2 separate regions of the Homo sapiens genome follow, and region 2 is reported to be linked to region 1. The links are microRNA targets in miRTarBase. Many come from high-throughput screens and were not tested one by one. Region 1 holds a microRNA gene; the other region holds the end of a gene's coding sequence.

Region 1 (5,378 bases):
GGTATGTGCCAAGACGCCTGGCTAATTTTTGTATTTTTAGTAGAGATGGGGTTTCACCATGTTGGCCAGGCTGGTAATTTTTTGTGGAGACTGGGTTTCACCATGTTAGCCAGGATGGTCTCAATCTCTTGACCTCATGATCCGCCCACCTTGGCCTCCCAAAGTGTTAGGATTGCAGGCGTGAGCCACTGCACCCGGCCTGAGCAGCTTTAAGTAGATTTTAAAATTATATATATTCTTTAATGTGAAGATGTTGTGATTCTCATTTTTGGTGATTAGCACACCAACAAATGGGAAAGGATTGCAAATTCTTAGATTTATTTAAAAGCGTAGAACTAAGCTTCTCGTGAAGCTAGATGAATAGAAACACGGAGCATCTATAAACTGGATTAAACATAGGGGGGTACAAACCTCCTGGATATTTTTAATTCTTAGGAAGAAGGAGAATTTAGCACCAGACTCTTGAAAAGCAGTGGCATGAAAGTTAGTTTGATATATTGTTTGAGTTTGTATTGCCTTAGGCCCTGAATCAAGACCAATGGTTTGCTGTAGCTGTTGGTTTCAAACAGGAGCTAAGAGTGATGTCTTCCTTGTGGTCTGTTGGCTATTCAGTATTCCAGTGCGAATTGCCAATTCAGTTGGAAGAAACATAGTCTAGAATGTAATGTCATTTTTTTTTTTTTTTTTTTTACAGAGCAAAACTATGTTAGGCTTAAGAACCAGGGAGTTGGCCGGGCGTGGTGGCTCATGCCTGTAATCCCAGCACTTTGGGAGGCTGAGGTGGGCCAATCACTGGTCGGGAGATCAAGGCCATCCTGGCTAACATGGTGAAACCCTGTCTCTACTAAAAATACAAAAAATTAGCTGGGCGTGGTGGCACACGCCCATAGTCCCAGCTACTGGGGAGGCTGAGGCAGGAGAATCACTTGAACCCAGGAGGCGGAGGTTGCAGTGAGCCGAGATCACGTCACTGCACTCCAGCCTGGGCGACAGAGCGAGACTCTGTCTCAAAAAAAAAAAAAACAAAACAAAAAAAACCAGGTTGTTGCTCTGTCGGGATAGGGACTTAACCAAAATAATATTTCCTAGCCATTCAGAGGAACTGTGAGTTTTCTGTTGTCCTTCCTTTCTTCCTACCTTCTCCCTTTCCCTTGTTGGAGCTTGTTTGCTTGCTTTGTGGCTGTTAGGATATTAATCAGGCAATCTTGTATTACCCAGCAATATTTAATTTTAACGTAGCATTGTTCATATTTAAATTAATCACTGGTGAACTTACATGTTCATTACAGGTAGCCTCAGAGAATATGCTTTTTTAAAAAATATTTTTTTAATTGTAGTAAAACATACATAACAAAATTTTACTCTTTTAACCTATGTATGTATGTGTGTAAGTAGGTGGGTAGGTAGAGATGGAGTCTTGCTGTGTCACCCAGGCTGGTCTTGAATTCCTGGCCTCAAGTGATCCTCCCACTTCGGCTTCCCAAGGTGTTGTTATCATAGGCATGAGCCACTGCACCTGGCCGTTTTTAAGTGTACAAGTCAGTGGTGTTATGAACATTTACCATGTTGTACAGCTATCACCATTTTCTGTTCCAGAACTTTTTCATCAACCCAAACAGAAACTTTGTACTTTTTAAACAGTAACTCTCTCCTTTCCCTTTCCCCTGTTCCCTACTATTCTCCGTTTCTACTTTGTGTTTCTGTGAATTTTCCTAGAATTTTTTTTTTTTTTGAGACAGGGTCTGGCTCTGCCACCCAGGTTAGAGTGCAGAGGTGCAGTCTCGGCTCACTGCAGCCTCTGCGTCCCAAGCTTGAGGGATCCTCCCACCTCAACCTCCAGAGTAGCTGGGACTACAGGTGTGTGCCACCGCGCCTGGCTTATTTTTGCAGTTTTTGTAGAGACGGGGTTTCACCATGTTGCCCAGGCTGGTCTTGAACTCCTGGGCTCAAGTGATATGCCTACCTTGGCCTCCCAAAGTGCTGGGATTAGAGGTGTGGTGGCCAGAATTTTGTTTTTTAATCTACTGTATTGGTCTATGTTTTACACTTGGCAGCAAAAGCTCTCAGTGCTTTTGGATCTTGTTTCATTTGTTGGACGCTCTTGTAAAATTTTTTTTTTATTAAAGGTAGGCTAGGGTTGAGGGAGACAGCAGAGTATTGCTTTAAAGTTTGCTGAAAAACATGCCAACTTTATTACTGTTTCCCTTGGTATTGCTGATGGGCTTTTCTCTTTTTTCTAGGACTTGGATGTTGTGGGTGATGGTATGCAGTGTCCTCCTTCACCTTTGCTTTTTGATCCTTCACTAACCCTTGAAGATCATTTAGTCAAAGAAATTGCTGAAGACCCAGTGGATATTTTGGCAAGTGAAGAACAGTCCCACCTGTTTCCCTCATGTAGTGACCTGGCCAGGCAGAGGGTTCCCTGCTAGATAGCATGTGCTCCTGGAGGGGAGTGGGGTGTCATCACTAGTATAAAGATGCTCCACATGTCTCTCACTTATTGAATACCATATAAGCAAAGCACTTTTAAAAATGCCCTACTCTGCTCCTGTGTACCCTTGTTGCTGTAGTTCTCCAGATGGGCTCTTAGAACACCTAATGGCCCGTGATCCTCATATCCCAGAGTAGGACATACATTTATTTAAATAAAAGCTTGAGACAAGGAATCTAGGGAAATCATACCTTCTGAGGGAGAGTTCATCACTGAAATTGTTCTCATTGTAGAAGGACCAGTAAAGTAATGTGATTTGAGTTCTGTCCGTGAGCCTTGGGTAGAATTCCAGTGGCCCTGACTGAAGACCAGCAGTTGTACTGTGGCTGTTGGTTTCAAGCAGAGGCCTAAAGGACTGTCTTCCTGTGGTCTGTTGGCTGTTCTGGGACCTCAGTAGGGAATGGCTATTTCATTTGGAAGAAACAACCTACAGCTCACCATCCCATTGGAAGAGGCTCAGGAATAGGCTCTTCCAAGGGACTAGGATAGCTAATATGGGAAGAGCATCTGTCCAGAATTAATTTCTGTTGTATTGTTCTTATTGCTAGTTTAAGTGGCCACTGATAAGTCAGATTCATACTTCAGACCACAGTGAATGAATTACTAACTGAAGTGCCTTTATTTCTTTTAACAGGGCCAGATGCAGATGGCTGGAGATGGGTGCAGATCCCAGGGATCTCGAAATTCTGAGAAAGCCTCTGCACCATTGTCTCAGAGTGGATTGGCTACTGCAAATGGGAAGCCAGAACCCACTTCTATTAGTTGATAGTTTGGGGAACCATTTTACTTTGGTGGATTTAAATTTCTCGTTCTTCAAAGAAGTATTTCTGATCATCTCTCACAAAACACAGGCAACCCAGACTACCTTGTTTTTCTTCTGGATTGAGTATTATAGTCAAACGTAAAGCCAAATTTTGAGGACGTGGACCGTGGGTTTCTTCCCACTCAGGGCAAGGAAGAGAAAGAGAGATAATCCCTATCAAAGCTTCTGGGATTATTTGGGACTATACCTAAAAGGAAAGTGACATCTTTGTAATGGGATTTCCCAAGTCATGGATAGAAATCCACTTAAGTAGCTAGGTGGGAGCTGTCTTTGTGAGTGGTGTCTTTGAGATACTGATGGCCCTAATATCGGTTATCTCTATCTGAAGACCTGCAGTTTAGCTTTTCTTCACCTCTACTTAATTGGGCAGTCTTTAACCCCTTTCCCTGGTGAACTCTGGCTTTTTATCCTCTGAGAAAACAGCCCACAGGACTGGGTCCTCCTTATCCGTCTTGCTTTTAACCTATGTAAATTTCTGTGGTTGCTATCTTATGTAAAATATAGTAAAAATTTATTGTATATAGTTTCTATTAAATGTTAAAGAAAATGTTATGAAAATATCAAACAGTCACCTGAATTGAATGCATGTTTTGTTTGAGAATATAGTTTCTTTTTCGCGGTTTTGGGGACCTGTCTCTGATGGGAAAGGGAAGTTGGGACAGATGATACTTCCATCCCAAGAAGTAAATAAATCTTCAGTAGCTCATTTTGGTTTTGCTTTGAAGGAAGAAGTAAATGAAAAGGGGCAGGACTTATTAAAGCCCATCAGTTCCAAATATCTTTCTTCTTTTTACCCTCCACTCTGTGTCTCCTACACCCACTCCCATTTCTCACGATTAATGCCAATGCCATCTCTGCCAGACGTGGTGGCTTACGCCTGTAATCCCAGCACTTTGGGAGGCTGAGGTAGGCGGATCACTTGAGCTCAGGACTTCAAGACCAGTCTGGGCAATGTGGTGAGACCCTGTGTCTATATTTTTAAATTTTAAATAATTATTTTTAAAAAAATAATGCTAATACCATCTCAGAATTCTCTAGTGGTAGGAATATACTTAAAACATAGAGAAATTGGGCCTGATGCTGGATCACTAAGATAGACATAGATAGGTATTGTCAAGATCGTTTTGACACTGAATCTTAGAGCAGGATTAAAATAGAAGTTCAGTTAGGGTTGAGGTACCTATGCTAGAAATTGTCTATTTCTATACTGCATTATGACAAGGAGGGCAAAAGATTACTTTCTATAAGAACTGAAATGGGCACAGAATGGCTTACAGTTATACCATCATCTTAACTTTAAGCATTTACATTCAGAGAATGGTTGAAAGTAACTCATAAAAGGCCCATCAGATGAACCACTGGGGAGATTGCCTTTACTGGGTCTTCCAGTGATACTCTTTTTAAGTTTGTAGTTCCCACTGCTTTTTTGATTCTCTAGTCTAGTACTTTTTTTTTTTTTTTTTTTTGAGACGGAGTCTGGCTCTGTCACCTAGGCTGGAGTGCCGTGGCTCAATCTCGGCTCACTGCAACCTGCATCTCCTAGATTCAAATGATTCTCCTGCCTCAGCCTCCCGAGTAGCTGGGATTACAGGCATGTGCCACCATGCCTGGTTATATTTTGTATTTTTAGTAGAGATGGAGTTTTGCCATGTTGGCCAGGCTGGTCTCGAACTCCTGACCTCAGGTGATCTGCCTGCCTCAGCCTCCCAAAATGCTGGGATTATAGGTGTGAGCCACCATGCCTAGCCTAGTCTAGTGCATTTTATACTTTATCCACAAAGACAAACATTACTTTTTATTTATGTGTGTGTTTATATTTGAGATGTGATCTGACTATGTCACCCAGGCTGGAGAGCAGTGTCATGATTATAGTTCACTGCAGTCTCAAACTGGGCTCAAGCCATTCCCCTGCTTCAGCCTCTTAAATCTGGGACTTACGTACCATCATGCCTAGCTAAGACAAACGTTACTTCTTACACAGCTATGAGCTTAAACATGACTGCTTAGATATCCTCTTCCTGTTGTTTAAAAAAATGTAATTTACAGACCACTAGCATATATATC
Region 2 (5,378 bases), not on the chromosome of region 1:
CCAGAAAGAGCTGAACCACATGCTGTCGGTAAGGCCTCTCACCCAAGGGCCTTGCCTCCCTCTCCCCTTCCCTCCCCTGCAAGCCTCTGGCCTCTGAGGGTGTCTTTCCCTGCTGAGGCCTCTATCCTTCCAGTGTCCCCGCTAACTCCAGGGTCTTCTACACCCCCAGGCCTCTGTCTTCTCAGGATGCTTAGGCCTAGCCAGTGAGGGCTATATTTGCATTTCCCAAGGGAAGCAGCTGTGCAGGCCAGATCCTGGGTCTCTGCCTAGGGTCCTGCCTGGAGTCTCTCTGGGGCTTCCACCATCAGCATTGCTGACCCTGCTTCCTCCCCAGGACACAGGGAACCGGAAGGCTGCGGATAAGCTCATCCAGAACCTGGATGCCAATCATGATGGGCGCATCAGCTTCGATGAGTACTGGACCTTGATAGGCGGCATCACCGGCCCCATCGCCAAACTCATCCATGAGCAGGAGCAGCAGAGCAGCAGCTAGAGACCCCTTTGGCCACACCTTCCAGGCACTGGCCTGATGCCCCGCCCTGGTGCTCTCCCCAGGCTCCCTCCTCAGCCTCCTGCCCACCCAGGGCCCTTTACTCTCTTCTCCCTCCAGACCTTCCTCTGACCCTTGCTGAACTGGGGTCCCTTTGTGAGTGTCTCAGTCTAGAGGTACCTCCCTCCCTGGGGGGTCTCAGCTCCTGGAGTCGCAGGCCCTTGGGGCCCCTCTGTGAGATCTCAATGCTGTCTGGGGACCCTAAGAGTTTTCTCACCTGTTCAGTCTCATCTAACCTTCCAATGTCTGATGTTCCTGCCAAATTCCTGCCTGATTCTGGGTCCGTCCTGACCTCCAAAGGTCAGCTTGGTGCTTGAGGTCTCCCTGCTCTTGGTGGCAGTGGTAGCAGCAACAGCAGCAGCAGCAGCAGCAGCAGCAGCAGAGACCTCTCCACTTTCCCTTAGCCCCTCTGCTGGGTAGAGAGGCACTTTCAGGGACTTCCCTCCAGCTGCCTCTTCATCTGGGAATGAGCTAAGCAAGGCTGAGCCTCCTCCTGTTGCTTGAAATAATGATGATATAAAGGCTGGATTTGGAGTTTGTATCCCCTGGTCCCTCTGGGATGCTCATTAAAACCTTCCCACTCCTTGGAAACGTTTTATGCTTTGGTGGTCTTAGCCCTTGGGCCCTGTGATAAGAGAGAATCTCACAGAAGAACCTCAAAGGCAGAGCAAGAAAGGAGCCAGAACTCCTAAATTCCAACAGGCACTGTCAGCTGTGGGCCAGCAGCTCCCTCCATCCTCCTCCATAAAGGGCCAAAGGCCTTAGGTCACCATCTCTGGGCCCTTTTAGCCCAGACTCAGACTCAAATTCAACTTCCAGGCACACTGTAAGTCCCGTTTAGTCCTCACTGCAATTCCACGAGAGAGGGACCATGACCCTTAGTCTTTTTTTTTTTTTTTTTTTGGAGCGGAGAGTTTAATAGGCAAGAAGGGGCAAGACGGAAGGGAGAAGGAAGAAGCTCCCCTGTACAGAGACAGAGGGACGGAGGCCCCAAAGCTGAGAGAGGGAACCCCACCTGCCACAGATACCATCTAGGTATATATACAGAGGCTGGAGGAGGAGGAGTCTGATTTGTATAGGGCTCAGGGGATTGGTTTGACTATGCGTGTCATTCACGTAGCCCTCGGAAAAAGCTGGCCCTCACACCCTAGCCTTTTTTTTTTTTTTTTTTTTTTTTGAGATGGAGTTTCACTCTTGTTGCCCAGGCTGGAGTGCAATGGCGTGCAATCTCGGCTCACCGCAAGCTCCGCCTCCCGGGTACAAGCAATTCTCCTGCCTCAGCCTCCCGAGTAGTTGAGAATACAGGTATGTGCCACAATACCCCGCTATTTTTGTTGTATTTTTAGTAGAGACGGGATTTCTCCATGTTGGTCAGGCTGGTCTGGAACTCCTGACCTCAGGTGATCCGCCCGCCTCGGCCTCCCAAAGTGTTGGGATTACAGGCGTGAGCCACCGCACCTTGCCCCACCCTAGCCTTTTAATATGCAAATGCAGGTCTACACACCTGGGGATATGTGAGGGCAGCCACATTGCCAGGAACATGTGGGGAAAGGGCAAGAAGGCCGGGGGAATCACCATGTTTGGGTGGACCCAGTTTCTAAGGGCTTGCATTTGCATATCAAAGGTTGCCAACCTGGCTCTAAGAGCCGGGGCTTTACAAGAAACTTTTCTGGAGATGCTTCAAAAAAATGAAAACTCCAGCCTGACCAACATGTAGAAACCCCGTCTCTACTAAAAATACAAAATTAGCCGGGCGTGGTGGCGCATGCCTGTAATCCCAGCTACTCGGGAGGCTGAGGCCAGAGAATCGCTTGAACCCAGGAGGCGGAGGTTGTGGTGAGCCAAGATCGCACCATTGCACTCCAGCCTGGGCGACAAGAGCAAAACTCCGTCTCAAAAAAAAAGAAAAAGAAACAAAACAAAAAACTTCCCAAGGACCCAAGGACCCATTTTCCTCTCTATCTGCCTAAAATAATTTCTTAATAACTCCTACAACATTCCCCCCTGTGGAGATGCCACACTAACTGCTGTTAGGGAGTTTTGGGCGACGACTCCTTCTGGCTACTTCTTGTTGCAAAAGGGCGTCGAATGGGGAAGAGCAGCTAGGGCTCCTCCTGGGGTCAATCTAAGGGTCCTCAGAAGAATGATGTGTCTATGTGTGGTTCTGTTTACAGCACCATTTGGAGTTTGATTGCTTCTAGATGAGAAGAAACAATTTGAGTTATAGTATTGTGTATACAGGGTCCAAATATCAATACAAGACACATAAGCAAGAGAGGGCTTAATAAAGGGGTTAACCAATTCCATAAAGAAGACTGGAATTTATTAAAGAGGCATTGTAGCCACTCGGGGATCAATAATTTTGATTTGATTTTTAAGTACTTGTAGATTTTCTTTTAACTAGAGGCATTAATCCGAAAGCAGCATGTTTCATTGAAAACTGCATCACTAAACCCAATAAAAAGTCCTAGCAGATTCAGTGGTAGTAAAACTTTTATGCTTCCTTTTCATTAGTAGCTATTATCCCTGCTATAAGGATAATGATTAAGCAAAATATGACAGCAATGGAAACTCTCTGTTTAATATTTCAGTTAGAAGGTGCTACCATGTATAATCCTATTGCAAATAATAGAGTGAGTATAGCTATTTCCATAAGTGTGGTGTGGTAGATAATTTCCATCTAAACTTTTACCTGTCAAGATATAGAATTCCCCTTTGGGGGTCTATGAAGTTCCTTGGTTTTATTTTCCTAAACGAAGAAACCTCTGGGTTATGGGCACCCTACTCACTTTTATTACCTGGTAGAATTTGCAGAATAATTGCCCAGAACTAATATATTGATTCAGATTTTATATTACCCATCCCTTAATTTTTCTTCCAAGCTGCAGGAGATCACTGCTTGATTCACAGGAATAAGCAGGGTTAGTCTAAAATGTAGGCGAAAAGCTTGAAAACAAAAACAAAAAACAAAAAAATGTATGATAAGCTTTGGAGCACAATTTTTCTCTCTAGTCCTCGTTCTTGGTAAAAACAAGTTATGAATAAACTGTAGTCTTATACTTGCCCTGATTATTTGCATAAAGTGCAGCAAGAATGGTTATTTGTACACAGGCCTTTTGATTGGCTTTGATGAAACTCTGTTTCACAAGGAATTTCAGATAAGACTATTAAAGCCTAAAGTTTGTATTTGAGGATACAAACCTCAAATACCTGTTAGTTGGGTGATCCTCTCCTCTTGAGGTCCCAAGATAAACTCGGAGCTCCCAGACGTGTTAAAAAATGACATTCTTTACTGACTACAGATTAGGAACCCTGTCCAGAGACTGTGTAGACAAGGTATGAGGCCAGTTCTCCCAAAGCGGCTTTTATTGGCTCTGCTTGTCAAGCTTGATTCAGATAGTTTCCAAATTCTAGAGGAACCAGGCAGAGAAATAAACATGCTCCAAATTTTGTTCATAGGAGTACACCTTACTCAATTATTAAAGGCCACAAATAGCTTAAAATAAGTTTCCTTGACTCAGTCTGATGAACGAATTTCCTTTCCTGGCCAACGCACTAAAATGATACGGCTCTGATGAGTGGAGGAACACCAGGGTTCTTGGTGCTCATGCCAGTTTAGATAAAACGACATGGACACACGTGGAGTGGTTTTAAGGAGCGGAGAGTTTAATAGGCAAGAGGGACAAGAAGGAAGGGAGAAGGAAGAAGCTCCCCTATACAGAGACAGAGGGAGGGGGGCTCCAAAGCCAAGAGAGGGAACCCCCATGACCCTTAGTCTTGAGCCATGAGTGGCACTGAGGCTCTGAATTCTCATTAGTAGACTATCCCGATACAGACAGAAGTTGTGGGATGGAGAAGTAGAGGTGCAAGGAAGAAGGAGTGTGGGAGGCCAGGTGGAATGGAAGCCATGACTTGCAGCTGCTGGAGGGGACATTGCCAGTTCCTTGGTTTCTCCCCTGCTCTTGCACTGAGGGAGATCCCAGTAGGAAACCCACCCTGCAGAACTGGGCATCAGCAGTTTTTAAATGGGAACAGCTTAAGACTTTCCAAAAAGATGCACAGGCACAATAGTTTTATTGGCATCCACTTACAGATCCTCAGCCTTCTAAAATTGATCTGCCCTGGAACAGGGTGGCACTCAAGGTGTTGTACTGTTCCTCCTTTCCCACCCCCAGTAGCTGGGATTACAGGCTGGCGCCACCACACTCAGCTAATTTTTGTATTTTTAGTAGAGAAGGGGTTTCACTATGTTGGCCAGGCTGGTCTCAAACTCCTGGCCTCAAGAGATCCACCTGCCTCAGCCTCCCAAAGTGCTGGGATTACAGGCATGAGCTGCCGTGCCCGGCCTACTATGCTACCTTGACTGAATGATAAAGAATGAGTTAACATGTCTTGTTGGTGGCGGGGGGAGGGGGGTGGTTCTATCTATCTATCCATCCATCCATCTATGTATCTATCAATCTATCATCTATTTATCTACTTACCTATCTACCTATCTGCTATCTATCTATCATCTATCTATCTATCTATCTATCTATCTATCTATCTATCTATCGCTATCTGTCAACTGGTAAAAAAGACACAAATTTACCTCTTTTTTTAGTGTGCATTACAGTATTGTTAACCGTATATACATTGTACAAAAGATCTCCAGAACTTTTTCATCTTGCACGACTGTAACCCTATACCCTTTGAACAACAACTGTTTCTCCCTCCCCACAGTGAATACAATTTTACTTTCTGTTTCTTTTCTTTTCTTTCTTTTTTCTTTTCTTTTTTTTTTTTTTGAGACAGATCTTGCTCTGTCACCCAGGCTGGAGTGCAGTGG

What was found. Region 1 holds the annotated microRNA hsa-miR-1291 (UGGCCCUGACUGAAGACCAGCAGU, at 2,784-2,807, shown strand). A microRNA usually pairs through its seed, bases 2 to 8, with sites in the 3' UTR of a target mRNA and lowers its output. Matches are read on the target gene's strand: a 7mer-m8 pairs with bases 2 to 8, a 7mer-A1 pairs with bases 2 to 7 and ends in A, and an 8mer does both.
Region 2: the mRNA of S100A16 is a reported target of hsa-miR-1291. Seed matches in the 3' UTR shown: 7mer-m8 at 582-588.

The regions. Positions count from the first base shown.
Region 1 is chr12:48,651,923-48,657,300 of GRCh38, reverse strand. It overlaps MIR1291 (microRNA 1291), which reads left to right and starts at 2,771; the gene lies at 2,771-2,857. It overlaps KANSL2 (KAT8 regulatory NSL complex subunit 2), which reads left to right. Exons shown (of 10, transcript NM_017822.4): 9 at 2,241-2,360; 10 at 3,126-4,090. The coding sequence ends at 3,257. It overlaps SNORA2C (small nucleolar RNA, H/ACA box 2C), which reads left to right and starts at 2,783; the gene lies at 2,783-2,919. It overlaps SNORA2A (small nucleolar RNA, H/ACA box 2A), which reads left to right and starts at 519; the gene lies at 519-653.
Region 2 is chr1:153,602,649-153,608,026 of GRCh38, reverse strand. It overlaps S100A16 (S100 calcium binding protein A16), which reads left to right. Exons shown (of 3, transcript NM_080388.3): 2 at 1-28; 3 at 335-1,141. The coding sequence ends at 493. Among named protein-coding and RNA genes, the nearest start is that of S100A16, 7.8 kb to the left of the region's middle. RefSeq lists an enhancer at 2,042-2,997.